Homo sapiens: one gene and its partners. The protein of the gene in region 1 purifies or fractionates together with the protein of each later gene. This does not show direct contact. Each region holds a gene or a part of one and is shown in the gene's direction. Other genes may lie near its edges.

The links.
Region 2: the proteins of EZH1 (region 1) and BRAF purify together in Homo sapiens (pull-down; one large-scale study listed by IntAct). This does not show direct contact.
Region 3: the proteins of EZH1 (region 1) and DHX38 purify together in Homo sapiens (affinity purification with mass spectrometry; one large-scale study listed by BioGRID and IntAct). This does not show direct contact.
Region 4: the proteins of EZH1 (region 1) and SUGP1 purify together in Homo sapiens (affinity purification with mass spectrometry; one large-scale study listed by BioGRID and IntAct). This does not show direct contact.
Region 5: the proteins of EZH1 (region 1) and SAFB2 purify together in Homo sapiens (affinity purification with mass spectrometry; one large-scale study listed by BioGRID and IntAct). This does not show direct contact.
Region 6: the proteins of EZH1 (region 1) and SCAF11 purify together in Homo sapiens (affinity purification with mass spectrometry; one large-scale study listed by BioGRID and IntAct). This does not show direct contact.
Region 7: the proteins of EZH1 (region 1) and RBBP6 purify together in Homo sapiens (affinity purification with mass spectrometry; one large-scale study listed by BioGRID and IntAct). This does not show direct contact.

What each region holds. Positions count from the first base shown.
Region 1 is NC_000017.11:42,710,403-42,714,353, reverse strand, and holds part of EZH1 (histone-lysine N-methyltransferase EZH1), read left to right. Parts: intron 1-964; coding exon 965-1,145; intron 1,146-1,868; coding exon 1,869-2,065; intron 2,066-3,951.
Region 2 is NC_000007.14:140,914,652-140,918,602, reverse strand, and holds part of BRAF (serine/threonine-protein kinase B-raf), read left to right. Parts: intron 1-3,951. UniProt on the Homo sapiens protein: Protein kinase involved in the transduction of mitogenic signals from the cell membrane to the nucleus. Phosphorylates MAP2K1, and thereby activates the MAP kinase signal transduction pathway. Phosphorylates PFKFB2.
Region 3 is NC_000016.10:72,106,978-72,110,928, forward strand, and holds part of DHX38 (pre-mRNA-splicing factor ATP-dependent RNA helicase PRP16), read left to right. Parts: intron 1-362; coding exon 363-571; intron 572-667; coding exon 668-822; intron 823-1,249; coding exon 1,250-1,405; intron 1,406-1,495; coding exon 1,496-1,630; intron 1,631-1,822; coding exon 1,823-1,948; intron 1,949-2,437; coding exon 2,438-2,533; intron 2,534-3,951. UniProt on the Homo sapiens protein: Probable ATP-binding RNA helicase. Involved in pre-mRNA splicing as component of the spliceosome.
Region 4 is NC_000019.10:19,310,396-19,314,346, reverse strand, and holds part of SUGP1 (SURP and G-patch domain-containing protein 1), read left to right. Parts: intron 1-3,951.
Region 5 is NC_000019.10:5,595,212-5,599,162, reverse strand, and holds part of SAFB2 (scaffold attachment factor B2), read left to right. Parts: intron 1-278; coding exon 279-370; intron 371-3,665; coding exon 3,666-3,802; intron 3,803-3,951. UniProt on the Homo sapiens protein: Binds to scaffold/matrix attachment region (S/MAR) DNA. Can function as an estrogen receptor corepressor and can also inhibit cell proliferation.
Region 6 is NC_000012.12:45,921,262-45,924,684, reverse strand, and holds part of SCAF11 (protein SCAF11), read left to right. Parts: intron 1-1,530; coding exon 1,531-1,749; intron 1,750-2,102; coding exon 2,103-2,222; intron 2,223-2,490; coding exon 2,491-2,637; 3' UTR 2,638-3,423. UniProt on the Homo sapiens protein: Plays a role in pre-mRNA alternative splicing by regulating spliceosome assembly.
Region 7 is NC_000016.10:24,537,789-24,542,537, forward strand, and holds the start of RBBP6 (E3 ubiquitin-protein ligase RBBP6), read left to right. Parts: upstream 1-1,777; 5' UTR 1,778-2,838; coding exon 2,839-3,004; intron 3,005-4,749. UniProt on the Homo sapiens protein: E3 ubiquitin-protein ligase which promotes ubiquitination of YBX1, leading to its degradation by the proteasome.

The sequences.
Region 1 (3,951 bases):
TTTGTTAAAAGCTATATTGTAGGAAAGCCTACATGTATGTCAAATGCTGGACCATTCTGAGTGCCTCTAGACAATGTCACTGGAAGATAAACCTTTATTTTGTAGAAATAGATTTAGTTTTCAGAAACAGCTAGGAAGTCTTTGAAAACCAAGTCTGATGAGAAAATATTGATGATCTAGGTGAGTGATAATTATTTCATTTTTTAAAAAAGGGGGTGATAGCTGTAAAATAATGAAACAATATTCTTCTGAGTTTCATACACAGATTTGGGAGGAAGTTTCAAAATTAAGTAGTAAGATTGTACAGATTAAGCATTACACATTTTATTAAGGAAACAGAGAAAGTGTGGTAGACTGGAAAGAATAGTGGCCTAGGGAGACAAGGAGCCCTGATTCCTATACCCCTCTGGAACTATTAGCTGCATACTCTCAAGCTAGTTTCTTCCCCTCTCTGAATCTCATTTCTTCATCCATAGGAGAATGTGTTCTCAAATTCCAAACAAGTAACACGCAAGTTAATTTTAGATACAACTCACTGGAAAATTGAAGACACAGATGCATAGATTATATCTTTTTTAAGATTATAGGACATTAGCTGGGCATGGTGACATGTGCGTGTGGTCCTAGCTACTTGGGAGGCTGAGGCAAGGGAATCACTTGAGCCCAGGAATTCGAGGCTGCAGTGAGCAGGCCTCTGCACTCCATCCTGGGCAAGAGAGAGAGACCCTGTCTCAAAAAAACAAACAAACAAAAAAACATTATAGGACAACTCTTTTGTGAAAAAGTACGTAAGTTTTGTTAAGCAGCTCTCATTGTTATATGATCATACTTATTATATGGTACAGAGAAAAAGAAAAGACACTATTATTGTAGACAGATGTTGTAAAGATGAAAGTTTGTGATGATGAGATCAATATGGTGATGGGCCTGTTCCTATTTCCTGTCTGTAATGTGTCCACTGCAGGAAGGAGCAAAGGAGTATGCCATGCTCCACAACCCCCGCTCCAAGTGCTCTGGTCGTCGCCGGAGAAGGCACCACATAGTCAGTGCTTCCTGCTCCAATGCCTCAGCCTCTGCTGTGGCTGAGACTAAAGAAGGAGACAGTGACAGGGACACAGGCAATGACTGGGCCTCCAGTTCTTCAGGTACGATGAACAGAAAATGAAGACTTTTTCTTTCCATGCAAGGACTCTGGTAAACCCAGGATCACTGCCTGACACTTAACTTTACTACCTCTTAAAAATTATAAATTCTTTCTACAAGTTTTGTAAACAGTAAAGATGGGGAATATTTTCTTTTTTTTTTTTTTTTTTTTTGAAACAGTCTCTCGCTTTTTTGCCCAGGCTGGAGTGCAGTGGTGCTATCTTGGCTCACTGCAACCTCCACCTCCCAGGTTCAAGCGATTCTCCTGCCTCAGCCTCCCAAGTAGCTGGGATTACAGGTGCCTGCCACCACGCCCGGCTAATTTTTATATTTTTAGTAGAGACGGGGTTTCGCCATGTTGGCCAGGCTGGTCTTGAACTTCTGACCTCAGGTGATCCGCCTGCCTCGGCGTCCTAAAGTGCTGGGATTACAGGCGTGAGCCACCCTGCCTGGCTAATTTTTGTATTTTTAGTAGAGACAGGGTTTCGCCATGTTGCCCAGGCTGGTCTTGAACTCCTGAGCTCAAGCAATCCACCCACCTCGGCCTCCCAAAATGCAGGGATTACAGGCGTGAGCCACCATGCCTGGCCTAAAGATAGGGAATATTTTCATTCCTAACTGTTCTACCTTTTAAAGTAGAATGAAGTACTTCTGAGTTTGTGACAAACTACTGATGACAACTGCATTCTACCTTCTTCTGATTCTGTTATTTCTTCCCTTCTCAGAGGCTAACTCTCGCTGTCAGACTCCCACAAAACAGAAGGCTAGTCCAGCCCCACCTCAACTCTGCGTAGTGGAAGCACCCTCGGAGCCTGTGGAATGGACTGGGGCTGAAGAATCTCTTTTTCGAGTCTTCCATGGCACCTACTTCAACAACTTCTGTTCAATAGCCAGGCTTCTGGGGACCAAGACGTGCAAGCAGGTACCATCTGGAAGCAGCAGAACAAATGGGCCCCTCCTTTCACGCATTGCTCTGTCCAGCCCTTTGCCATCTTACCAGGCTGTGTGTCTGGGTCTGGAGAGAAGTTGTCTTAAGTTCAGTCCCTGATGAGCCTGTGCTTCTGTGAGTTTCCCAAACATGGCCCTTCTGCAAGTGCCAGGCCTAATGATGTTTGGGGACCCGCCTCCTCCTTGCTGAATGCTCATTTCTGTCTGGACTCTATTTAATGCTTCTGGGTCCTACACTCTTTCGCTTCTTTTTTTTGGCTCTGGCCTCCTTTCTAAATGTGTACCCCTTTCCCAGAAGGGACTCCCAGGTCTTTCTGTGGCTCTTGTTAATGAGCACACTGCTGCTGCTGCTGCAGCTGCTGCAGCTGCTGCTCCCTCCACCACTCCGCCAGCCTCTTCAGTCATTTTATTCTCCACATTTTCTATCACTAGATTATCTTTATTTTGTCTTTGAGACAGGGTTTCACTGTGTCGCCCAGGCTGGAGTGCAGTGGCATGATCATAGCTCACTGCAACCTCCGCCTCCTGGGCTCAAGCAGTCCTCTCCCCTCAGCCAAGCAAGTAGCAAGGGACTACAGGTGCAGGCCAGTATGCCCAGCTAATTTTTTTTTTTTTTTGAGACAGAATCTCGCTCTGTTGCCCAGGCTGGAGTGGTGCAGTGGCATAATCTTGGTTCACTGCAACCTCCGCCTCCCAAGTTCAAGTGATTCTTCTGCCTCATCCTCCCAAGCAACTGGGATTACAGGTGCCCACCACCACACCCAGCTAATTTTTTTTGTTTTGTTTTTTTGAGATGGAGTCTCGGTCTGTTGCCCAGGCTGGAGTGCAGTGGCATGATCTCAGCTCACTGCAGCCTCCGCCTCCCAGGTTCAAGTGATTCTTCTGCCACAGCCTCCCAAGTAGCTGGGATTACAGGTGTGCACCACCACGCCCGGCTAATTTTGTATTTGTAATAGAGACGGGGTTTCACCATGTTGGCCAGGCTGGTCTCAAACTCCTGACCTCAGGTGATCCACCCGCCTCGGCCTCCCAAAGTGCTGGGATTACAGGCATGAGCCAATGTGCCTGGCCATTTTTGTATTTTTTTTTAGTAGAGATGGGGTTTCACCATGTTGGCCAGGCTGGTCTCAAACTCCTGACCTCAAGTGATTGGCCCAGGAAAAGACAGGAAAAGACCACAGTGAGAAGACAGACTGAAGAACAGGGACAAGGAGGCAGCTGTCAGGGCCAGCATGTCCAACAGGAAAGGAACCCCAATGCTTTGGCTTCCTACCTTCTGGAGGAGACTCTGTGGCCTCTTCTTCATGCTTCCTGTACTGAGAACAATTAATAGAACCATGGACTGGGCAAGGTGGCTCACACCTAGAATTCCAGTGCTTTGGGAAGCCATGGTGGGAGGATCGCTTGAAGCCAGGATTTCAGGACCAGTGTGGGCAACAAAGTGAGACCCCATTTCTACAAAAAAAAAAAAAAAAAAAAAGCCACGTACCTGTAGTCCTAGTACTCAGGAGGCTGAGGTGGGAAGATGGCTTGAGCCCAGGAGTTCTATACTACATTGAGCTATGATGGCACCACTGCACTCCAGCCTGGCCAAGAGTATGAGACCCTCTCTCTTAAAAAAAAAAAAAAAAAACAAACAAAAACAGAACCATGAGCTGAAGTGCCCTTTGCTTTCATTTTGGAGCTCATACCTATTTCCCTGATCACAGGTTCTCAACGTAACCATCTATGGATTTGTATGCAAGAATGTTCTTGTCTGTATTTTCCTGAGAATAGTTACAGTTTTCAAAGATCCCCCACAAAGGGCCAATAGCCCCAACAAAGAAAAGGAAAAACTAAAAACCAGTGCTTTAAGAGAAA
Region 2 (3,951 bases), on another chromosome or scaffold:
CTGTTTTGGGGTTTCAAGGACCTTCTTCAGAGGTTACCCCAGGGCTCTGTTTAGTGCCTCTATACCAGGGGCCCCCAACCCCTGGGCCACAGCCTCGTATCTACCAGTCCGTGACCTGTTAGGAACCTGACTACACCGCAGGAGGTGAGTGGCAGGCAAGTGAGCATTACCGCCAAAGCTCCACCTCCTGTCAGATCAGCGGCAGGAGCGTGAACCCTATCAGAAACTGTGCATGTGAGGGATCTAGATTGTGTGCTTCTTGTGAGAATCTAATGCCTGATGATCTGAGGTGGAACAATTTCATCCTGAAACCCCCTCTACCCCTGTCCATGGAAAAATTGTCTTCCATGAAATTGGTCACTGGTCCCAAAAAGGTTGGGGAGTGCTGCCCTATACCATAACTATTGAAGTTCTTCATTTATCTGCTTTACATGTTAGTTTCCTTGAAAAAAGGGTTTTATGGCTGTAAAAATTTTAGAGCTACTATGTATGGAAGAGAGGTTTGTGCTGGCATAAATCTTCTCAGGTATCATCTGTGTAGAAAATTTCAACAACTTGTGTCTTAAGGCAGAGGTCAGCAATCTTAAGGGTCAGATGGCAAATATTTTAGGCATTGTGGGACATACAGTTCCTCTCACAATTCCTCAACAATACTGTAGTAGCTCAGAAGTAGCTAATAGACAATATTTAAACAAATGAGTTTGACTCTGTTCCAGTAGTCATTTTCAGGACACTGAAATTTGAATTTCATATCATTTTCATGTGTCATGAAAATCTTCTTTTGATTTTTTTTCTACCACTTAAACATGTAAAAAGTATTCTTAGCTTGTGAGCTATACAAAAGCAGATAGTGGGCCAGTTCATGGGCTGAACTGTTCTGACTCCTGGTCTAAGGGAGACTATATATGTTATATTTGAGGTTCTCAAAGTAAGATGTAGGTTAGAGGTCTATAGAAAGTTCATAATTGCTTTTGTAAAAACTAGATTGATTTATTTGAGAGGGAGAGAGAGGTGGAGTTTCACTGTATTGCCCAGGCTGGACTTGAACTCTGGGCTCAAGCAATCTTCCAGCCTCAGCCTCCCAAGTAGCTAGGACTACAGGCATGCACCAAGCCCAGCTCCTAGTTCCTCTTTGCACTCAGTTTCATCTTCTACCCTCAGCCCCTGGCAAACACTGGTCTGATCTCTGTGCCCTTTCCAGAAAGTCATATAAATGGAGTCATATAAAAGTCATATCAGTGGGGCCGGGCATGGTGGCTCACACCTGTAATTTCAGCACTTTGGGAGGCTGAGGAGGGCAGATCACCTGAGGTCAGGAGTTTGAGACTGGCCTGGCCAACATGGTGAAACCCCCTCTCTACTAAAAATACAAAAATTAGCCGAGCATGGTGGTGGGCACCTGCAATCCCAGCTACCTGGGAGGCTGAGGCAGGAGAAACACTTGAACCCGGGAGAGGGAGGTTGTAGTGAGCCGAGATCGCGTCATTGCACTCCAGCAATTGTGAAGCAGTGGTTAAGGTTCATTCATTATTTTACATATGGATGTCCAGTTGTTTCACATTTATCAAATTTCTTTTGAATCACCTTGGCACTTTTATTGAAATCAATTGCTTATGTTTGTGAGTTTTGGATTCTACTGTTTTATTGATCTGTGTGTGTTTTCTTAGGCTAATACCCCACTACCTTAGTTATGATAGCTTTATAGTTAAATTTAAAATCAGGTAGGTCCAGTTGAGAAGATTTTTAGAACTTTGACTTTTTAATTTCTTGTTACCATACTTTTGGAAGGAGAAGACTCATAATTTTATTCAGGTTTTCAAAGGTGTCTTCTACCCCCAAATACTTAAGACTTCAGTATATAGTTAATATATCTCTGTCTTGAATTATGTGGTGGTGAGGTTCATGAAAAGTGACAGGTAAAAGTTGCAACCAAAATTAATTTCCTTATAAGAAAGGACATATTTTAGTAGGTTGCACAGAAAAGTCAATCACGTCCTTTTTACCGTGTTGCATTATGAGGTGTAATCAAAATGTGTATAGGGGAAAATGAATATGTTAAGATGTTTATTCACCAAAAAAAGTCACCGAAAGTGTCAATTAGGTTGTGAAAGATACTAGTTTACAATGTGTTATTCTCCATCTTCATTAGAAGAGTTCTTCCATTTGAAACCTATGTCATGTTCTGTGATATTTCAGAGTTAGTATCTTTATGAATCTTAGGGGCATCATTAAATCATTATGTTTCTTCTAAGGAAAGGCATATGGTAGTAGTTGGTCATATTTCTACCTTTTTCAGTGGGGCCTATAGGGCCCCTTTACTTTGTTTTAAACTGCACTGATAGCTTTTTACTGGTTAGCCCAGGGAATTATCCCTACAGTGTAAAATGATGTTTCTCATCATGATTTTCATTTAATAATTTAAAAACAAAATAACAGGAAACACATGTTTCTAGAGAGGAAGTGTGGAATACCTGACTAGTAGAGGGTCAGGTGACAATTGCGAAGGTAGAAACTGACTAAGTTTTGACCATGTTGCAAGGAGTATCGTTCCAGTTTTGTTGGGTCACCTTGCAGAGTTTTTAAAAAAAATCCTTGGGTTTTTTTTGTTTGTTTGTTTGTTTGTTTTGGTAGAGATGCTGTGTTGCTCAGGCTAGTCTCGAAATCCTGGGCTCAAGCAGTCCTTCCCAGAGTGCTGGGATTACAGGCATGAGCCACCGCACCCAGCATCACCTTGCCGATTTTGAAACTACACTTCCAGGGAGAGAGTAATACAATATCTTGGCAGACTATTTTTAACTATTGTTCCAAAATTAATCTGTTTTTAAAAAGTAAAGAAGTGTGGATATCTTTAAAAGATACTTTAATTAGGCTGGTCACGGTGGCTCATGCCTGTAATCCCAGCACTTTGGGAGGCCAGGATGGGTGGATCACCTGAGGTCAGGAGTTCGAGACCAACCTGACCAACATGGAGACACTCCGTCTCTACTAAAAATGCAAAAAATTAGCCGGGCATGGTGGCGCATGTCTGTAATCCCAGCTACTTGGGAGGCTGAGGCAGGAGAATTGCTTGAACCTGGGAGGCGGAGGTTGCAGTGAGCCGATATTGCGCCATTGCACTCCAGCCTGGGCAACAAGAGTGAGGGAAACTCCGTGTCAAAAAAAAAAAAAAAGATACTTTAATTATATTTAAGTTGGGGAATACTTTTGTTTTATATTTTTTCTTGCACTAAATATGTAACCTTTAAGTTAATAACACCAGAAAATTTTTACTTTATAGTTTTAGAACTGCTTAATTGAAATAAAATGTTAGGATACTTTGAATTAGTCACTTATTTTGGCATATTTTAAACAGTTTAATGTACTGCTTGGGGTTGTTTCTCAATTGACTTGATATTTTTAAACTGTATTTTTTACCTTGTACCATTTATTTTGCAAAATAAATTTCTATTTTGGCTTATAGATGTATTTTTAATATTAAAGGGGATTATTGGTGTCAGCCATAAAATTGTAATTAAGTCTTAAGTAGGTATGGTTTTTTTTTTTTTTTTTTTTTGGAGACGGAGTCTCGCTCTATCATCCATGCTGGAGTGCAGTGGTGTGATCTCGGCTCATTGCAACCTCCGCCCCCCCCCCCCCCCGGGTTCAAGTGATTCTCCTGCCTCAGCCTCCAGAGTAGCTGGCACTACAGGCGCATGCCACCATGCCCGGCTAATTTTTTTGTATTTTTGGTAGAGATGGGATTTCACCATGTTAGCTAGGATGGTCTCGATCTCCTGACCTCATGATCCGTCCGCCTCAGCCTCCCAAAGTGCTGGGATTACAGGCATGAGCCACCGTGCCTGGCTGATTATTTTTATAGAGCTCTTGTTAGCGTAATTTCTGGTAATGTTTTATGGAGGTGACTTAATTCCCATCATAAAAATATCCCATCTTTTCTGTGACTAGCAAGCA
Region 3 (3,951 bases), on another chromosome or scaffold:
GGCCAATATGGTGAAACCCCATCTCTACTAAAAATACAAAAATCAGCTGGGCGTGGTGGCGGATGCCTGTAGTCCCAGCTACTCGGGAGGCTGAGGCAGGAGAATCGCTTAAATCCGGGAGGCAGAGGTTGGGCAACAGAGTGAGACTCTGTCTAAAAAAAAAAGAAATGAAACATGTAAGAGGCTCCAGAAGAAGGGCTAAATTGGCAGATTGGAGTTTTGAATAGGTGGAAGTCAGTGATTCACTGAAGTAGTGGGTGGGGAGAAGAAATGAGAATTTCCTCCCTCCCTGTGGGATTTCATCTGTACTGGCTGCTGTGGGGTTTCCTTGTGGTGAGAAGATGGGGTCTTCTCCCCGGCAGGCTCTACACCCAGAGCGCCTACAAGAATGAGCTCCTGACCACCACAGTGCCCGAGATCCAGAGGACTAACCTGGCCAACGTGGTGCTGCTGCTCAAGTCCCTCGGGGTGCAGGACCTGCTGCAGTTCCACTTCATGGACCCGCCCCCGGAGGACAACATGCTCAACTCTATGTATCAGCTCTGGATCCTCGGGGCCCTGGACAACACAGGTGAGGCGGCCCCGGGAGCCTCATGGGTGCTGGCGCTTGACTTCCTTCTTTCCTCTACTGTCCCGTCAAATATCCGGGTTTGCTCATCTCTCCTAGGTGGTCTGACCTCTACCGGGCGGCTGATGGTGGAGTTCCCGCTGGACCCTGCCCTGTCCAAGATGCTCATCGTGTCCTGTGACATGGGCTGCAGCTCCGAGATCCTGCTCATCGTTTCCATGCTCTCGGTCCCAGCCATCTTCTACAGGCCCAAGGTGGGGCAGCGGCTGGCTCCCCTCTCCCCGGAGGGCTCGAGGAAGTGTTGGGGAGGGGAATGGCTTCTCTCTGTATTACTGAAATGGAACAGAGGGCAGAATCAGAGTTTCTGAAGAATGATTTTGCTGTTCTCGGTTAAGCAGGTTGGGGTAGGGGAAAGGAAGGGCTGGGCCAGTGGTTCTCAGGGAATGCTTTGGAAATTTGCAAGAGCATTTTTTATCTTCTAGTATGGTTGCTCTTGAGCCCTCATGTTTTAGAGTAGACCTTTTTAAAAATTATTTTAATTTTTCTCAAATTGTCAGGGCAACCTATTGACATGTTTGAAGTTCTATGTGTGGGTAGGTGGTAGTGTTAGAACCTCTGGGATGTGCTCAGTGGGCCTGGACCCCCCTGTACTTAGAGTGAAGGTTCTTTTTCCCTTCCTAGGGTCGAGAGGAGGAGAGTGATCAAATCCGGGAGAAGTTCGCTGTTCCTGAGAGCGATCATTTGACCTACCTGAATGTTTACCTGCAGTGGAAGAACAATAATTACTCCACCATCTGGTGTAACGATCATTTCATCCATGCTAAGGCCATGCGGAAGGTAGAGTGGTGGATGAGCAGGATGTTGGGATGAGGGGAGGGTCGAGAGGAAAGGAGGGCTCCCTCCTGGTGCCTCCGTCTCCTGCCCTAGGTCCGGGAGGTGCGAGCTCAACTCAAGGACATCATGGTGCAGCAGCGGATGAGCCTGGCCTCGTGTGGCACTGACTGGGACATCGTCAGGAAGTGCATCTGTGCTGCCTATTTCCACCAAGCAGCCAAGCTCAAGGTGAACCCAGGAGCCCAGTGAGCCCCTCCCAGCCTGATACCTGTATAAGGGCAAAGTTCTTCCTTTGTCCTGGTGTGGTTCTGCAGATCTGGGCTTCCGCCAAAGGCTGTGTCAAGAGTGTTAAGGGATGGGGTCGCTGCCCAAATGGGTGTTGTTTTCCTGATGTGGCTGCCTGTTGTGTCTCCTCCCTAGGGAATCGGGGAGTACGTGAACATCCGCACAGGGATGCCCTGCCACTTGCACCCCACCAGCTCCCTTTTTGGAATGGGCTACACCCCAGATTACATAGTGTATCACGAGTTGGTCATGACCACCAAGGTGAGTCTTTTCCAAGGCACTTGCATAATGCAGGCCCCCTGTCTGGCCAGGCTTTGAAACCCTTCACTGCGTTCTGGCATGAGCTTTTAGCCTGGGAGCCTTGAGGCCACATGCATTGTTTTGCGGGGCATGTGAGGTTGGTTTTCATTTGGGGACTTGGGGAAGCTCTGCACAGGGTTGACCTCTAGACTGCATTGACCTCAGCTGCATGGGCACGATTGTTCCCCACTTGCTGCTTGGGATGAGCAACCCCTCTTGGTGTCATTAGAAGGATTTTCGGAGGGGTTGGGCCTTTTCTTTTAGATACTGGGGGCATTTTCTCAAGTGTGGAGGAGTTTGGATGGGAGTATCTGGGGTTTTTCCTTTCCTTTTTTCAGCCTTGCAGGGCCAGGGATTGGGCCCTTCCCATGTGGCTCCTAATTGTGGAACCACTCTGGGAGGGACATTGGCCCTCCTGTGACCCTCGCCTCCCTGCCCTTCTGCCCGCAGGAGTATATGCAGTGTGTGACCGCTGTGGACGGGGAGTGGCTGGCGGAGCTGGGCCCCATGTTCTATAGCGTGAAACAGGCGGGCAAGTCACGGCAGGTGAGGATTCTGTGCTCTTCGCAGGGGTGCTGTTTGCCTGTGGGGTCGGTGTTCCCTCCGCTTGGTATTGAAGACTTGCGGTCATCCAACCCACTTACTTCTCTCTGCAAACATAAAGGCTGTGATCCAGCAGGCTGGGTCTGTCTGATTCCCCACCACCCACTCCAGTTGTTTGGTAGGCTGAGCCTTTAAAAACAAAACCAAAAAACTCATTATTGAAAAGTCCAAATATTCATGAAAGTGGGAAAAACAGTACAACAGGCCACCATGAATTCGTTGCCTTGCCTCTATAATTGTCAACGTTTGTTCAATTTCACTATTCCTACCCCACTCCACACACATCCATTTTTTTTTTCTGGAATATTTTAAAGCTTATCTCATACATTATTCATCCATAAATACTTGAGTATGTGTCTCTGACTAAAAGGACTTAAAATTTTAAATATAACCTCTGTGCCGTTATCACTCATAAAAAAATGAATACTTAATGTCACCTAAGTCTCCAGTCCGCATTTGGATTTCTCCATTTATCTCAAAGATAACTTCTTATGATCGATTTGCTTGAATTAGGATCCAGGCATTGCAACTGCTTATGTGTGTTAACTGTTTCATTCTAGAACAGGCTCCACCCCACGCTTTTTTTCATGACATTGATTTATTGGAGCAGCCAGGTCATTTGTCCTGTCGAATAGTCCATATGATGTATTTGCCTCATTGCTTGCTCACAGCGGTGTTTAACCTGTGCCTGTGTTTCGTGCACTTGCTGTAAGCTGGCGATGAGTCCAACCGCTCAATTAGATCCCGGCTGAGCTGCGTGTGGCAGAGATGCCTGCATGTGGCACTGTGAACCTCCTCTTAGATGCCTTCAGGAGGCATGTGAGGTCTGGTGGCCCCACCTTTGCTGATGGGAGGATGGATGAGGGGCCCCAGTGGTGGCAGCCTGCCTCTTCCCTGATAGGTTTCCACTGCTCCTCCATCTTGAGGTTTTAGCGTCTGTTGATGGCCATTGCCTAGATCCATATTTAGGGTTGCAAAATGGTGCTGGGCTTTGGCTTACCCCTTTTCGTAGCATAATTCTCCCCATACCAGGCTCCCTTGCATCTTATGCCTGTCTCTTCCAGCCAGCAGGTAATCACATCTTCCCTGTTTTTCTGTACTTCCTAGCATAGTTGTGAACTTGATTTTTCAAAAAAGAAGGAAATGTAAGTACTTCCTGGACTGAGGGATGACTGAGTTAGGACTGATTGTCCAGTGTCTTGAGTCAGTGAAAAAAGCAGGCCTCAGCTGCAGAAGAGAAGGCGGCTTTGGTACTGGGGCAGGCAGCCATGTGGAGCACTGGCCTGGTGGATGCAGCACCTGGTTTGTGGCAGGGACTTGGGTGCCGACGAGGCCTCCTTCCTTAGTGGTCCCCAGTAGGC
Region 4 (3,951 bases), on another chromosome or scaffold:
TTAATTAATTAATTTATTTATTTTTGAGACGAGTCTTGCTCTGTCACACAGGCTGGAGTGTAGTGGTGCCATCTCGGCTCACTACAACCTCCGCCTGTTGGATTCAGGAGATTCTCCTGCTCAGCCTCTCGAGTAGCTGGGATTACCAGTGTGCGCCACGATGCCCGGCTATTTATTTATTTATTTATTTATTTATTTATTTTATTTTTTGAGACAGAGTCTCACTCAGCCGCCCAGGCTGGAGTGCAGTGGTGTGATCTTGGCTCACTGCGACCTCCGCCTCTTGGGCTCAAGTGATTCTCCTGCTCAGCCTCCCGAGTAGCTGGGATTACAGGAACCCACCATCGTGCCCGGCTAATTTTTGTATTTTAGTAGAGATGGGGTTTCATCATGTTGGCCAGGCTGGTCTTTAACTCCTGGCCTCAGGTTGTTCCTCCCACCTCGGCCTCCCTAAGTGCTAGGATTACAGGCATAAGTCTCTGAGCCCGGCCATTTTTTTGTATTTTAGTTGAGACAGGGTTTCACTATGTTGACCAGGCTAGTCTTGAACTCCTGGCCACAGGTGACCTACCCGCCTCTGCCTCCCAAAGTGCTGGGATTACAGCCTTGAGCCACCGTGCCGGGCCTGTTTTATTTCAGAGGCAGGATCTCACTCTGTCACCCAGGCTGCAGTACAGTGGCACTATCATAGCTCACTGCAGTCTGGAATTCCTGGACTCAAGCTATCTTCCCACCTCAGCCTCTTGAGTAGCTGGGACTACAGATGTCCACTGCCATGCCTAGCTAATTTTTAAATTTTGTGTAGATGGGGTCTCACTATGTTGCCCAGGTTGGTTTTGAACTTCTGGGTTCAAGTGATCCTCCTACCTTGGCCTCCCAAAGCATTAGGTTTACAGGTGTGAGCCACTGCTCCTGGCCCGATGTGTTTGTCTAACAATTTTTTTTTATATTTGAGATGAAGTCTAACTCTGTTGTCCAGGCTGGAGTGCAATGGCGCGATCTTGGCCCACTGCAACATTCGCTTCCTGGGTTCAAGTGATTCTTCTGTCTCAGCCTCCCCAGTGACTGGGATTACAGGTGCCCGCTACCACGCCCGGCTAATTTTTTGTATTTTTAGTAGAGACGGGGTTTCATCATGTTGGCCAGGCTGGTCTTGAACTCCTGACCTCAGGTGATCCGCCTGCTTTGGCCTACCGAAGTGCTGGGATTACAGGTGTGAGGTCCCGCACCCGGCCTTTGTAACAATTTTTAATTCAAATGTATTTTGATGTAAGTAGAACCACACTGTAGATACTGTTTTATAGCCTGTCCTTTTGTTTTTTTTTATTTATTTATTTTATTTATTTATTTTTTTTTTGAGATGGAGTCTTGCGCTGTTGCCCAGGCTGGAGTGCAGTGGCACGATCTCGGCTCACTGCAGGCTCTGCCTCCTGGGTTCACACCATTCTCCTGCCTCAGCCTCCTGAGTAGCTGGGACTGCAGGTGCCCCCCACCATGCCCGGCTAATTTTTTTTTTAATTTTTAGTAGAGACGGGGTTTCACTGTTTTAGCCAGGATGGTCTCGATCTCCTGACCACGTGATCCACCCGCCTTGGCCTCCCAAAGTGCTGGGATTACAGGCGTGAGCCACCGCGCCTGGCCTTGTTTTTCCTTTAACATTGTATTTGATTGCTTGTCTAAAATTTCAACTTTTCAGGGCTGCCCCATCTTCCCTGTGGATGGCCCGTAATTTATTTAACCAGTGCCCCTTGTTGATGTATTTAGGTTATTTTAGTTCTGATGAACTAAAAATTATTCCTTTCTCCTATTTAAAGGAAAAAGGCTAGCCCTGTGGACTCCATGAGCTTTTTGCACCATTGGGTACATCCATATGGTGGAACGTCATGCGGGTTTAAAAAGCAGCGTATGTGAGGAATTTGAGATTGGAGCAGGATGGTGTGCTACAGTAGGAAATGGAAGAAGTAGAGTGTGTGCTGTGATCACAGCCTTATTTCCTCTGACTTCTAATTTAGAGAGCAAAATAAAGATATATACCAGTGTTAATAGTGGCTGTTGCAAAGTAGGGAGACATTGTTGGGTTTTTCCATTCCTTTCTGTTTCAGTTTTTCTTTTTATTTTTTTTTAAATGATCTTACTCTGTCACCCAGGCTAGAGTGCAGTGGCATGATTGCGGCCCACTTCCGCCTTGACCTCCTGGGCTCCGGTGATCCTCTGGAATGCTGGAATTATAGGCACACGCCACCACACCCAGCTAATTTTTTGTTTTGTTCGTAGAGATGGGGTTTTCTCCATATTGCCTAGGCTTATTTCAGTTTTTCTACATTTCCATTTGTTCCATAATGAGCCTCTGTTACTTTTTTTTGTTTTAAGAAACATGATCTCACTCTGTTGCCCAGGCAGACGTGCAGTGGCATGATCATATGTCACTGCAGCCTCAAACTCCTGGGCTCAAGTGATTCTCCTACCTCAGTCTCCCAAGTAGCTGGGATTACAGGGATGAGCCACCATGCTTAGCCAAAGCCTGTGTTTCTTTACCCATGTGGGCCTGCAGCTCAGAGCTGGGATCTGCAAGCATTTCTTTGGGCATCATACATTTCTTTTTTTTTTTTTTTTTTTTTTTGAGACAGAGTCTCGCTCTGTCGCCCAGGCTGGAGTGCAGTGGCGCAATCTTGGCTCACTGCAAGCTCTGCCTCCTTGGTTCACGCCATTCTTCTGCCTCAGCCTCCCGGGTAGCTGGGACTACAGGCGCCTGCTACCACATCTGGCTAATTCTTTGTATTTTTAGTAGAGATGGGGTTTCACTGTGTTAGCCAGGATGGTCTCTATCTCCTGACCTCGTGATCCGCCCACCTCGGCCTCCCAAAGTGCTGGGATTACAGGCGTGAGCCACCGCGCCCAGCCTGGGCATCAAACATTTCTAAGAAAACAGCCAAAGCAATCTTGCTGGAAGAATCACAGGGCATTTTATATTTTATCTTCACTCTCTCCCTCTTTTTTTTTTTTGCAAAGTATATGTTTTACTTTTTAAAAAATATGTTTTTAACAAGTTAGCACAAAGGCAAACCCAGGGGCCTAAATATATTTAAATCAAAGTTGAGCACAGCTGATATACTGTTGTCAGAGCTGCCCTTCATGCCTGTCAAAAAAATGGCATTGGCCAGGAACAGTGTCACATGCCTTTAGTCCTAGTGACTTGGGAGGCTGAGGTGGGACCATTGCTTGAGGCCAGGAGTTCAAGACCAGCCTAGGCAACATAGTGAGATGTTACCTCTACCAAAAAAAAAAAAAAAAATTAAAAAATTAGCCAGGCAGAGTGGCACATGCCTGCAGTCCCTGTTATCGCACCATTGCACTCTGCACTTTAGCCAGGGCAGCAGAGCAAGACCCTGTCTCTTAAATAAATAGGTCAGGTGTGGTGGCTCACACCTGTAATCCCAACACCTTGGGAGGATGAGGTGGGAGGATGGCTTGAGGTTAGAAGTTCGAGAACAGCCCAGCCAACATAGCGAAACCCCATCTCTACAAAAATACAAAAATTAGCCAGGTGTGGTGGCACATGCTTGTAATCCCAGCTGCTCAGGAGGCTGAGACATGACAATCTCTTGAGCCTGGGTGGAGGAGGTTGCAGTGAGCCAAGATTGCCCCACTGCACTCCAGCCTGGGCGACAGAGTAAAACTCTGTTTCGGATAGATAGATAGAGAGGGAGAGAGACAGAGAGAGAGAGACATGTAGGCCCTGCCTTGGAAAACTCTAAGGTCTAGCAGGAGGACAGACATGAGTCAGTAACAACCCAGATAATCAACTAGCAAGGGAGGACAGGTGCTGTGCAGAGAGAGCAGGAGCCATCTTGTTGGAGGGCCATTTGGACCTGGAGGGTTAATATTCAGGCAGAGATAATACATGGAGTATTGCTTTTATCAGAACAAGATTGTTCCCAGCTTACCGTACTG
Region 5 (3,951 bases), on another chromosome or scaffold:
CAGGATGGCCGTGCTTGTGTGCGTGCTGCAGGTTTAAGCTGTAGGTTGGGAACAGGTCCCTCTAGTTGTGTAAAGAGCTGTGAGGGTACCCCCATGATGCTGTGCCCGTGTTACCGTGTTGCTCACAATAGATGAGAATTAGAGGCTCCCAAGGCTAGTGTCAGTCACTTGACTCACGCCTTGTGTGTTCAAAAGCCCAGGGTCCATCAGAGTGCTGTTTACTGCGGGAAGTTGGGGCGTCCACAGGTTTTGATAGTTTGTTGTGTTTTTTCCTGAAGGAAGCAGAGGAATGGAGCGGACGGTCGTGATGGATAAATCGAAAGGAGAGCCCGTCATTAGCGTGAAAACCACAAGCAGGTCCAAAGAGAGAGTGAGTATTGCCTCTGCCATCTCAGGGCCAGCTGTTTCTCACGATGGCTCCACGGCCCGTTTGATCCGCATTATGAAAACAGCACTGTTTTGCCTTTAAAATTGAAGTTTGTAGGAGGCGCGATAATTGTGTAGATTGCGGATACAGACACACACATGAATCCTGGTGCTTTCTGCAGAGCAGTGCCCATCCGTGTTTGCTTCCCTTACTGGCTCCTGACCGGGATGTGCCGCCTTCAGACAGAGCATTGGTTCACACGGCAGCTCACCATAGGGTGGGATGGGCCAGACCCAGGCTTTTCGAGCCGGAAGGCAGGTCCTACTCTTTGGTTGACTTAATAGCAGGCTACTTTCTTCCATTGGTTTTTTAGTCTCCTATTAAATTAACCAAAAAGGTAGAGACCAACCTAGGACAGAGAGCTGGTCATGTTATCAGATCAAGAGCTGTACCTCTCGAGTTGTGCACACAACTAGACGAAATAGCGTCTCATTTGCGTTTTTCACTCTGGGAAACAATAAAAACCTCTGCTTCCCAGCTGCAGGTTCTAGCTAAGATATTCATGAGGTGACAGTACTTTTTTAACGAATGTGGAGTTCACCATATTCAGCCAGGACCACTTTGTGTTGTTAAGACTTAACTTTTTTTTTTTTTTTTTTTTGAGATGGAGTCTTGCTGTGTCACTCAGGCTGGAGTGCAGTGGCGTGATCTCTGCTCACTGCAACCACTGCCTCCTGGGTTCAAGCGACTCCTGCCTCAGCCTCTCGAGTAGCTGGGATTACAGGCAACAGGCACACATCACCACACCAGGCTAATTTTTTTACTTTTAGTAGAGACGGGATTTTGCCACGTTGGCCAGGCTGGTCTCGAACTCCTGACCTCAAGTGATCCACCCGCCTCAGCCTCCCAAAGTGCTGGGATTACAGGCTTGAGCCACCGTGCCCAACCAAGACTTAGTTTTTAAAATGAACATTTGGATTTTATAAAGTATCAGTTCCTAATGTCATTTTTCACATGAAAATCATAAGATACAGAGAAATGTAGAGTAGAACATTGAAAAAGACCCATACTCTTACCCCCATGTAACTGTGATGTTGAAAACAAGTAGTGATGACACATGCATGATTAGAACATCTGGTCAGCTTGAGGAGATGCAGCACGGGCATACTAAAGCCTCCGTGTGTCCAGTTGGGCTCCTCGGCTTCCTCTGCACACACGTCCCCTGTGCCTGCCATGGGACCACAGACAGAGGATGTGCTGGAGCTTGCACTTTCTGTGTAATATGCCTTGGAGGTCTCTACATACAGACACATACGGTTTGGCTTTTTTCCTTTTTGCTTTTTTTTCTTTTCGCTTTTACATATATTTTTTATTTTATGCATGATATTTACCTATTAAAAAAAATAAAGGGTGGGAGTGTCTCACTTTGTTGCTTAGCCTGGCTTCAAGTGATTCTCTCGCCTTGATCTTCCAAACTTGCTGGATTAGAGGTGTGCGCCACCACTCCCAGCCTCTTTTAACGTTTAAATTTTGAAATAAAGTGCTGTTCAGAAAGGTTGTGGAGGGGACTTAAATCTCCTGGGTGTGTTGCACCTGCCAGGTCGCTAGTAAGTGGCTAAGCTGGCCTGAGAACCCAGGAGTCCCGTGCTGACACTGTTGCCTGCTGTGCTGCCCACTGTGCGGTGGTATGTGGGCATCTGTCACCTTATTCTACTGCAGTGTGTGTAAGACATCTGCCCGTCTCGTAGGCAAAGCTTGCCATCAAAGTGCTGGGTGATGTGTGTCTCTCCTGTGTCTGTGTGCCCCTTTCTCCCCAGCCTGCATTTTATTAATAATTGGTGTAATGTCTCATCTTGACCTTTGCCTGTCTTTCTGTTGGGTTGGTTTGTTTTTCATTGCTCGCTCTTTCTCTCCTATGGGGGCTAATTAGGGAAATAAACTGAGTAGCTTTTTAAAAATGTCATTTCCCAGGCCCCTGCCCCAGAGATTCTGTGTGGATCAGCAGGAGGCCTCAGGTTCTGTGTTGTTTAAAAGCTTCCTGGGAGGGTCTGATGTGTAGCCAGTTTGGGTGAGGGGCCCTGGAGAACCTTGGAAATGGGAGTCAGTTGTTACAGCTCTGAGCTTTATGCCACAGATAGAAAATGATGAATGTAGGCTGGGTGCGGTGGCTCACACCTGTAATCCCGGCACTTTGGGAGGATGAAGCAGCAGATCACTTGAGCTCAGGAGTTTGAGACCAGCCTGGACAATAGGGCGAAACCCTGTCTCTACAAAAATAGAAAAATTAGTCAGGCATGGTGGTGTGCACCTGTGGTCTCAGCTACTGAGGAGGCTGAGGTGGGAGGATCACTTGATCCTGCAGTGAGCTGTGACTGAGCCACTGTACTCCAGGCTGGACAACAGAACAAGACTGGGTCTCAAACCCAAAAAACCTACAAAAAATAAATTACGGAAGTTGGCTATTAGTGTTCTGTACCTTATTAGGAGCACTGTTTTGCATTAAAGCATTTTGGCATATTCTCTTTATTTATTTGAGACGGAGTCCCGCTCTGTCACCCAGGCTGGAGTACAGTGGCGCAATCTCAGCTCACTGCCACCTCTGCTTCCCAGGTTCAAGCGATTCTTCTGCTTCAGCCTCTTAAGTAGCTGGGATTACAGGCATGCGCCACCACGCCTAGCTAATTTTTGTATTTTTAGTTGAGACGGGGTTTCACCATGTTGGTCAGGCTGGTCTCGAACTCCTGATGTTGTGATCCGCCCACCTTGGCCTCCTGAAATGCTGGGATTACAGGTGTGAGCCACTGCGCCCGGCCTGGCATATTCTATTTAGAGCTGTCTGCCTGAGTCCTGAGCCAGCAGTTGAGATGTGAAACATGTAGTCTGCCCTCCAGCTGTCCAAACAGCTGGCCTGACTGCTGTCCCCTCTGAACTAATGGCCACAGTGGCCCTGTGCGGATGTGCCCGTGGCTCTGAGAGGCCTAGGTTTGCTTTGGATTATGTGAGTCCTTGGCTGTGCTATGCTAGAAGAACTGTGCCTGTAGGTTTTCTGAGGCGTGGGCCAACCTCTTCTCTTCCATGAATGCCCCTTGACATCTGAAAGCAGGATTCTGGATTAGGCAGTAAAATGCAAACTTGGAGGGAAGCAGCCTATGCCTGGGCCTCTGGTCTGGAGACCACAGCCTTCCATCTACACCATGTGGGGCCAGAGAATCTTAGTCTCATGCACACGTGCATAATCTCCATTGTTTGTTTGTTGCAATCATTTTCCTGACATTAATAAACCAGTTTTGGTAAACAGAGCTCCAAGAGTCAGGATCGCAAGTCAGAAAGCAAAGAAAAGAGAGACATCTTGTCGTTTGATAAAATCAAAGAACAAAGGGAGAGAGAGCGCCAGAGGCAGCGGGAACGGGAGATCCGCGAAACGGAGAGGCGGCGGTGAGTGGAGCTGGGTGAGGCTGTGGGCTGGTGGTTTCCTCTCGGGGTGGCTGTCCTTCTCCCAGCTGTACTTGGAGTGCGCAGTCTGTGTGCCCGAGAGCCAGTGCCTGGGCTGGCGGGTGTCGTGCTTAACCTGGGTCCTCGAGGCA
Region 6 (3,423 bases), on another chromosome or scaffold:
AACATTTAGCTGTTCATGACAGATGTTCAAAAAAAGGCATCCTGGCATTCAAAAACAATTGTTTATTTGATTTCAGTTATGGTAAACCTTCATAATCCCTCTTTCACTATCCTTCTCAAAACCCCCCAACTCCCAAATTAGAAAATTAATTAAATACTTATTACCAAATCCAAGCTACATATATGCTGTTACTTATATCTGAACAGGATTTTTTTATTCATATTAAGTAAACCAAATTATAAGCCAAATTAGAATCGAGTGGTGGGTGCTTTACATTTTTCCCCTGTTTTGCACTGTTTAGGGGGTATATGGGGACGGTGGGAACTAGTGATTAAGTACTGTGATGAAGCTTTTATTGTCTTGTTCAGACAAACACTGGATAAAGCTGTTTATTATCCATTACCATCTGTGTTTCATTTTCATGAATTTATCATGCTAAAAAGAAAGGAGAAGTGCCTCTGTGAGACATAGAAAATTTGAATAATTTGCAAACAATTTGTTGCTTATAATTTTATGACTGCCTTTTAAAAATTTTAGAATCCTAGGCCGGGCATGGTGGCTCACGCCTGTTATCCCAGCACCTTGTGAGGCCCAGGTGGGTGAATCACGAGGTCAGGATCAGCCTGGCCAACATGGTGAAACCCTGCCTCTACTAAAAATACAAAAATTAGCCGGGTGTGGTGGCAAGCGCCTGTAATCCCAGCTACTAAGGAGGTTGAGGCAGGAGAATTGCTTGAACCCAGGAGGCGGAGGTTGCAGTGAGCCGAGATTGCACCACTGCACTCCAGCCTGGGTGACAGAGCAAGACTCTGTCTAGAAAAAAAAAAATACAAAAATTAGCCAGGCGCGGTGATGCATTCCTGTAATCCCAGCTACTCGGAGGCTGAGGCTCAAGAATCACTTGAACCTGGTAGTCGGAGATTGCAGTGAGCCAAGATCGCGCCACTGCACTCCAGCCTGGGAGACAGAGTGAGACTTCGTCTCTAAATAAATAAATAATTAATTAAAATAAAATAAAATAAATAGAATCCTGACAGTAAGATAGAGTTGAAGGAATAGGGAAATTGGATTTTAGTATTTGGGATCTTAATCTTTTTCTCCTGTCAACTTACTGCAAGCCTTTTTTCTCCTGTCAACTTACTACAAGCCATTTGACTTTACTGCCTTATTTTTTCCAGGCTTTAAAGTGAGGGCACTTTAATATTTGTTAATATTCCTAAAGATCCTTGCAGGAAAGATATAATTCTTTAAATGCTATTCTCCTCCTTGTGTTTAGTATTGCTGTCAAAATGTTACAATACATATATATAATTTAAAAGTCATCTTGACATATCTAAATAAGGCCCCGTTTAAGAATGTTACTCATTTTTCTTTAAAGGGCCCTTTAGATATAATTACCTGAAATATGCATTTTTCTTTAGTACTAAGGTTGGTTTGCTTTGTGTTTTTTAATGTTATTTCTAATGCATCACTAAAAGACTTCTATCGAGTACAAGTAATTCATTAACTGATGATAACTCTTTAAAACAGGGTATTCCTAGTTCTTCTCATGTAAGTAATAACATGAGTACACCAGTTTTGCCTGCTCCGACAGCAGCCCCAGGAAATACGGGAATGGTTCAGGGACCAAGTTCTGGTAATACTTCGTCATCAAGTCACAGCAAAGCCTCTAATGCTGCTGTAAAATTGGCAGAAAGCAAAGTAAGTGTTGCAGTGGAAGCCAGCGCAGATAGCTCGAAGACAGACAAGGCAAGTTCAAGGTTGAGAGCAACCTTCATAATTCTGTATATGATAAAGGAGAAAAAATATCAGCTTTTTATTGTATGAGTGGTGAAGGGAATTTCTTATTGGCTGTCTAAATGCCATTATTATTTGAAGGATTCTCTCTAGATGTGTTGATGTCCAGTAAATTACTGGTAATATTTTATAATTGTTTTTAGAAATGTTTGATATGTTTTAGTAAATAAACTGTTTTATATTTGTCACGTTAATAGTTGGAGAGTCTCTTATTGTAAATATGAAGTATTTTCAATTTCTTGTTTGGGATTTTGTGAGAGCAGTATGACTGGCAAATAATAAATTATACATTTTCTTCTCATCAGAAATTGCAAATTCAAGAAAAAGCAGCACAAGAGGTAAAATTGGCCATCAAGCCATTTTACCAAAATAAAGATATCACCAAGGAAGAATATAAAGAAATTGTACGGAAAGCAGTAGATAAAGTAAGTTATGGCTTTAGTGGAGTATGTGCACGTTGTTTTGAACCACCTCTGTTTTAATAAATGAATGCTGAAGTTTAATTAAAATAATAAAAGCTAGCTCCTACTAATTCCTGTCTACTTTTTTGCCTTTTGATTAGTTTGTGTGAGATAATGAAACATGAAAATAAGTCTGGTTATCTCTTTGGGGTTGTTTTTCACAAAGCTTTCTATTTTGGCTTTAATCCCTTTAAGCATGAAAAAAGTTTACCCCCCACCCCTTTTTTCTTAGGTTTGTCATAGTAAGAGTGGAGAAGTAAATTCTACTAAAGTGGCAAATCTGGTTAAAGCCTATGTAGACAAATACAAATATTCACGGAAGGGGAGCCAAAAGAAAACTCTGGAAGAACCTGTGTCTACTGAAAAAAACATAGGCTGAAATGGGGAACGCTGTCAAGGACATTATCAGGATATCTGCAAAGTGCAATTTCAACATGTACCATTAACTGAAAATCATACATAACTGTGATTGAAATTTGGTTTTGATAAAATTATTTTTTTAACATAGGATATGATGTTTTGTTCTAAATAAATATAGGTCTGCACTGCAACTTCTGTATCCTTCCTTCCCCTCCACCCTCCCCCACAAAATTCAAGGGAAAGTAAAGGGTTTAAAGGAATGTGCATCTTTACTAGGACTGTGTTATAGTGTGGATACTGGAAAATGTATAGCTTTTTGATTAGGGCAATGGAGTGCATAAATTAGAAACTTCTAAGTGCACTGGTTTTCAAAGAGATATATATAATGCATTTATTCTGTCAGGTTAAAATGTAAAGTATGATCTTTATGATTTTTTCCCTCTAATTATAGAAAGTTAAATAATGTATTACCATGAAAAATGTTTCTAATATTAAATAGAACATATCAGTTGCAAAGTTCCTAATGTGTATTTTTAAAGCACATATCTGAATAAATTGCCTAGATAGAAAAAAAATTATCACGAGTAAAATTTAGTGTTCAAAACATTGAGACACTCTTCACCTATTGTATGACCAAATAAAGGTTATGCTGCTTGTTTTTCTTTTGTGCCTTTGTTTACCCCTAATTGAGATAAGCAGTTTGACTTACTAGATTACAACTTTGGCAGTTCAAAGTCTTTGTTGAAGACTTTGAGGAAAAAGATTTGGAAAAATTGTTGACTTTCGGCCGGGCATGATGGCTCAC
Region 7 (4,749 bases), on another chromosome or scaffold:
CATGACGGCTTGCAATTTTCTCGTCGAGTTTTTCTTTCACTAGAGATAGCCCTCGCCCTTTCATTCACACAGAGGCTTTTAAGAAAAAAGCAACCAACCTGAAGAGGACCTGGCAGCAATAAGTTTTTGGTGAAATAACAAAGAGGTAAAAGTGGAAGAAACTTGTTATATATGAAAAGTACTGATGTGTGTGGTTGAGTTAAATTGTAATGGTATCTCTAGAGCTGCCCTTGACTACGGCCAAAATTTTATTGCCACGACATCTCTATGGATCACGTAAAAATGTATCCAGTTATTCAGCACGTATTTATTGAGCACCTACTATGTTCTAAGAGCTGAGGATACAGCAAAAACAAATATAAAGATAAGATTCCTATTGTCAGCCGAAGGTAGGGGTTGGGGGAGATAGATAATTAAAAAGTAAATGTGTAACTGTCAACTATCTGCAAGTGCTAGGAAGAAAAGACTAAAGGGATAGAGAAAGATCGCCATCTTATTTTAAAAAGATGGCCTTAGGAAGGCTTTTCTGGCAGGATGGTGATTAATTTTAAATCAAGTTCAGTAAGAATTTGGAGTGTGCTTGCAGGAAGTCCCTGGGAAACTCTGCTACTTCTCGGCTATAGGATCTTATTCTCAGTTGCCTAAATTCACTGAGCCTAGCCTGTAAAATTCAGAGAGGATGAGGAACATGGATTGTAAACGATAATAACTATCGTTTATGAATGTAATTTTATTATATTATGATTTTTTCTGAATGTAATAACGTCCCCATGCCCAAAGGAAAAAAAAAATTCCAATCTACTGAGGGGGTTCTTGTCACTGTTCCTGGCATTTGCGCTTAGGAATGGAATCGGGACCCTGCCACTGAGCAGGCATCCCCTTCTGCAAATTCAGAAAGTACATGATTGCTAGCTTCAGTTCCATCATCTATAAATCGGAAATAATGTCATGTTGACCACGTAGGGTTTTTGTTGTTAAATTGACATTTATTGAGCTACAGCTATTAATATTTCGGTGCATTGAGCCACGTCAATGCACCGGCATGGTCTTAGACTATGGATTTATGTGCATTTATTTAATCCAAGTAAACCAAGTACTATTTTTAATGGCATTTTACAGCCAAGGAGACCCAGGCACAGAGGGGTTAAATCTAGAGCCCCCACAGCCAGGGATCCAACCCAGACAACGTGGCTGCTGAGCCTGGCAATGTTGTTATGCGATCAGCCCTGTGCCTAGCACATAGTAAGAGCTCAATAAATCTGTATGGTGCTGGTGGCTGTTATCAGTTCTTGGCAGCGGCTGCTCCACGATTTCCACTTGTCAAGAGTATAGGGTAGCCAGTTTATTGGAAGCAGCAGCTAGGGAGCGCTTGCATAGCAACCATAGTTTTCTGCGTAGCAACCATAATGCTCACTTAAATTGGGAGGCTTAGAGGAGCTGACGGGGCCTGTGGGGAAGGGGGAGTTAGCCGGCCACCCCTAGGCAAGCCACTTTGCAGTGGAAACTGCACGCAGCCCCTGCAAGGCGAGCTCTCCCCACCGAGCCTCCCTGTGAGCCGGTCCTCCTGACGCGCAACCCCCCTCCCTTTTGAAGCAGATGGTTCTTCCCGTTGTCCCTGCTCTTTCAGTTTCCGCGCTTTGGAGTCACAAAGCGCGGGGTCACGTGGGCGGGCCGTGCGCTTTGTGACGTCAGCCGCCCCGCCTCTCGGCCCGCCTATCCGCGCACGCCAGCCCCGCCTCGCGCGCGCCGCCCGTGCAATCCCTGCTTAAGAGACCCCGCAGTGGGGCGCTCGTCCGAAGCCAGGCCGCGTCCGCCATAGTACCTGGCTTGGAGGTGTCGCCGCCGCTCGGTGAGAGCCCCCGAGCGGCAGGGGGCCAACACAAAAAGGGAGCCGGAGAAGCCCTAGCCGCTGCCCAGCAGCTTGCGGGCGTGTTCTCGCGGTTCCGGGCCTCAAGGCGACGGAAACGAAAGGCGAGCGAAGCGCGGAGGATCCGGCGAGAAGAAGCGTCAGGGAGCCTCGGCGGTGTCCCCGGGGTCCGCCGAAGCCACCCGGCCGCCGGCTGGGGCCCGGGGTGGTGAGGAAGTGCTCCGAGGCCTCGCCGAGGCCTAGCGCCGGCTTTGTGTCCGAGGCGGCGGCGGCGGCGGGGGGAGGCGGAGCCGGGGGCGGCCTGCGGGAAGGCCTCTCCTCCGCCGACCGCGCGTTTTCGGCCTAGGCCGTGGGGCCGCTCGTGGCCTCCGGGGAGCAGGCGCCAGGGGTTTGTGTGCGGTGGGGGCCTGGGCCTGGGCCTGGGGAAGCTGACGCCGGTCGTCCGGAAGCCAGGAGGAGGCGTGAGGCCGCTCGTGGACTCCGGGCCTAGGCCCTCTCCCCTCAACCTTCTCCCGGGGCCTGGGTCACCCCAATCCACGGAGAGAGAGACCCGCCGGGAGGTGCGGCCGCGCTATGGACCCCTGACCCCGTGGGGTCGCTCGGACTCTTAACGTGTGGACTGACCGCTACTGACTGCACCGCCAATCCCCCCGTCTCTGCCGGCCCCTTAGCATGAGCGAGGGGGACCCAGCCGGGTGACATTGTGCCCGTTGGCGGATTCTCGATTTCCCCTCTTCCCCGTCCTCGTCCTCCTCCTCCCCCATGAAGTGATTCTGAGTATCGGGGGGTCTCTGGATTATTGTTCTGACGAACCCCTGCTTGTGGTTGGGGGGTATTTAATCTGAGGCCTTAGGGTCCTTCGGTGTCTTTGAGTGTTTTGTGTGTACATATTTTGCTCTTAAAGTTTATAAATATACGTATATTGAGAGTGTCCACGTCTCCTCGCTGAACCTTAGGAATCCCTTGGCACCATGTCCTGTGTGCATTATAAATTTTCCTCTAAACTCAACTATGATACCGTCACCTTTGATGGGCTCCACATCTCCCTCTGCGACTTAAAGAAGCAGATTATGGGGAGAGAGAAGCTGAAAGCTGCCGACTGCGACCTGCAGATCACCAATGCGCAGACGAAAGAAGGTAAGGGCCGCTTGGTCTTAAGATATTTGGTGGCTGGAGAGAGATACTAGCTAGAAGGTGCCTGGCAGGAAGCTAACCGCCATTATGTCTCTAGTGGGGACTGTTCGTTCTAGTACTTTGGATACAACTTTCATTGATAGCCAAGGTTTGCAGCAGTTGGCCTTGGAGTTTCACTGGTTTATTTTATTTCTGCATACTTGGGTCATCTGTAACAGGCTAACCCAAAACGTGGAAGCCTGATTATTCTTCTCGCTGTTTTTTAAAATGAGGGAGGGAGGAGAGGGGGATAGCTATCTAGACTCTTTGAGTGCTTGTCTTAGGGCGTTTTCTAACTTATTTTCCATCAGGAGGGCAGGAGAGCCTGTGCAAAGCTTGTTTGTTCAATCAGCAAAAAAAAAAACAAAAAAAAAACCAAAAAAACAATTTTCTAACCTAACAACATTGTGGAGTTTGATGGCAAATTTTATGTCCTGCCTTCCTCCCTCCTCGCATTTATTTATTTGGAGTTGCTTGCCTGTGTTGTGGATAAGGGATCTGAACTTTAATATTTTTGAGGATTTAATCAGTATTGGAATTGTTTTTGGATCTTGAAATGTTCTGATGTCACCGCTCTTGTCTTGTGTGTCAATTCCAGAATTAGTAATACGGCAATTAAGTAGTTAAACTGTTAGTTCATCACATTACTCTTAAGCTTTATCAATTCGGTGAAGATCAAAAGTACTGATTTTTTTTAAAGTAGTAGTTGCTAGATTTTACGTGACTGTTGATACTAAGGTACTGAAAAATAGGCTGCTACCATAGAGTACAAATAAGCCACTGATAAGAATCGTTAGATTCTTTCTCCTTTTCAAAAGTATTTTGATAATATTGGGAACTTAACAGTAGATAAATGTGACAAGCAGTCTTTCCTGACTCTGAACTTGTTTTGGTTTCTTTTTCTCAGATCAGTAATGCTGATGTGTATTTTTTAGCAGTTCGGTGTTCTAAAAGTTACTGATGGAATGAGAAGAAGTGAAGTTACAATTAGGTTAGGGTATTTTTTTAGTCACTAAATTTTTATCACACTTAAGGTGTGACATGGATTCTTTTAGTTGAAATGGGAGGTCCCCCACCTCCAGCCTGTAGTTTAGGTAGAGTAAATCTTGTCATGTAGAAGACCAGTTTTCCATTTACAATGCAGACCTAAGTATAATTGTATTAGGTTAAGGAACAGCAGTGCTGGCATATCATGACTCAAAAATATTAAGGAAGAATTTATTTGCTCAAATGATATTATGTGAAAATACTGTCTGCTTCCCCACCTTTTAAAAACAAGTGTCATACCCTTTGATAATTGGAGCTATGTGTAATCCTCTGCCTAAGGAGAGGAAAAACTGGTGGTGGTCATGAACAGTTGAGAAATAGCTTTATTTAAGTGCCTCACAAGCATCCCTTAACTACAACAGTCACATTTCACAGAACAGATGGGTTTATAAGAAGTTTGGGCCATCTTGACATATTGAGTATTTATGAATGAGAGGAGAGACAATATGAATGGAATTAAAGGATATTAAGGCAATTTTAATCGTCATATATTCAGGTTTCATATTTTACTGGAGTATTACACAATCGAATCATTAGGGCTAGGCGTTATCCATCTTTTCGACCCAACAATTGAATGCAGCTTTTTTTTTTTTTTTCCCCTGAAACAGAGTCTCACTCTGTCACCCAGGCTGGAGTGCAGTGGCACCATCTTAGCTCACTGC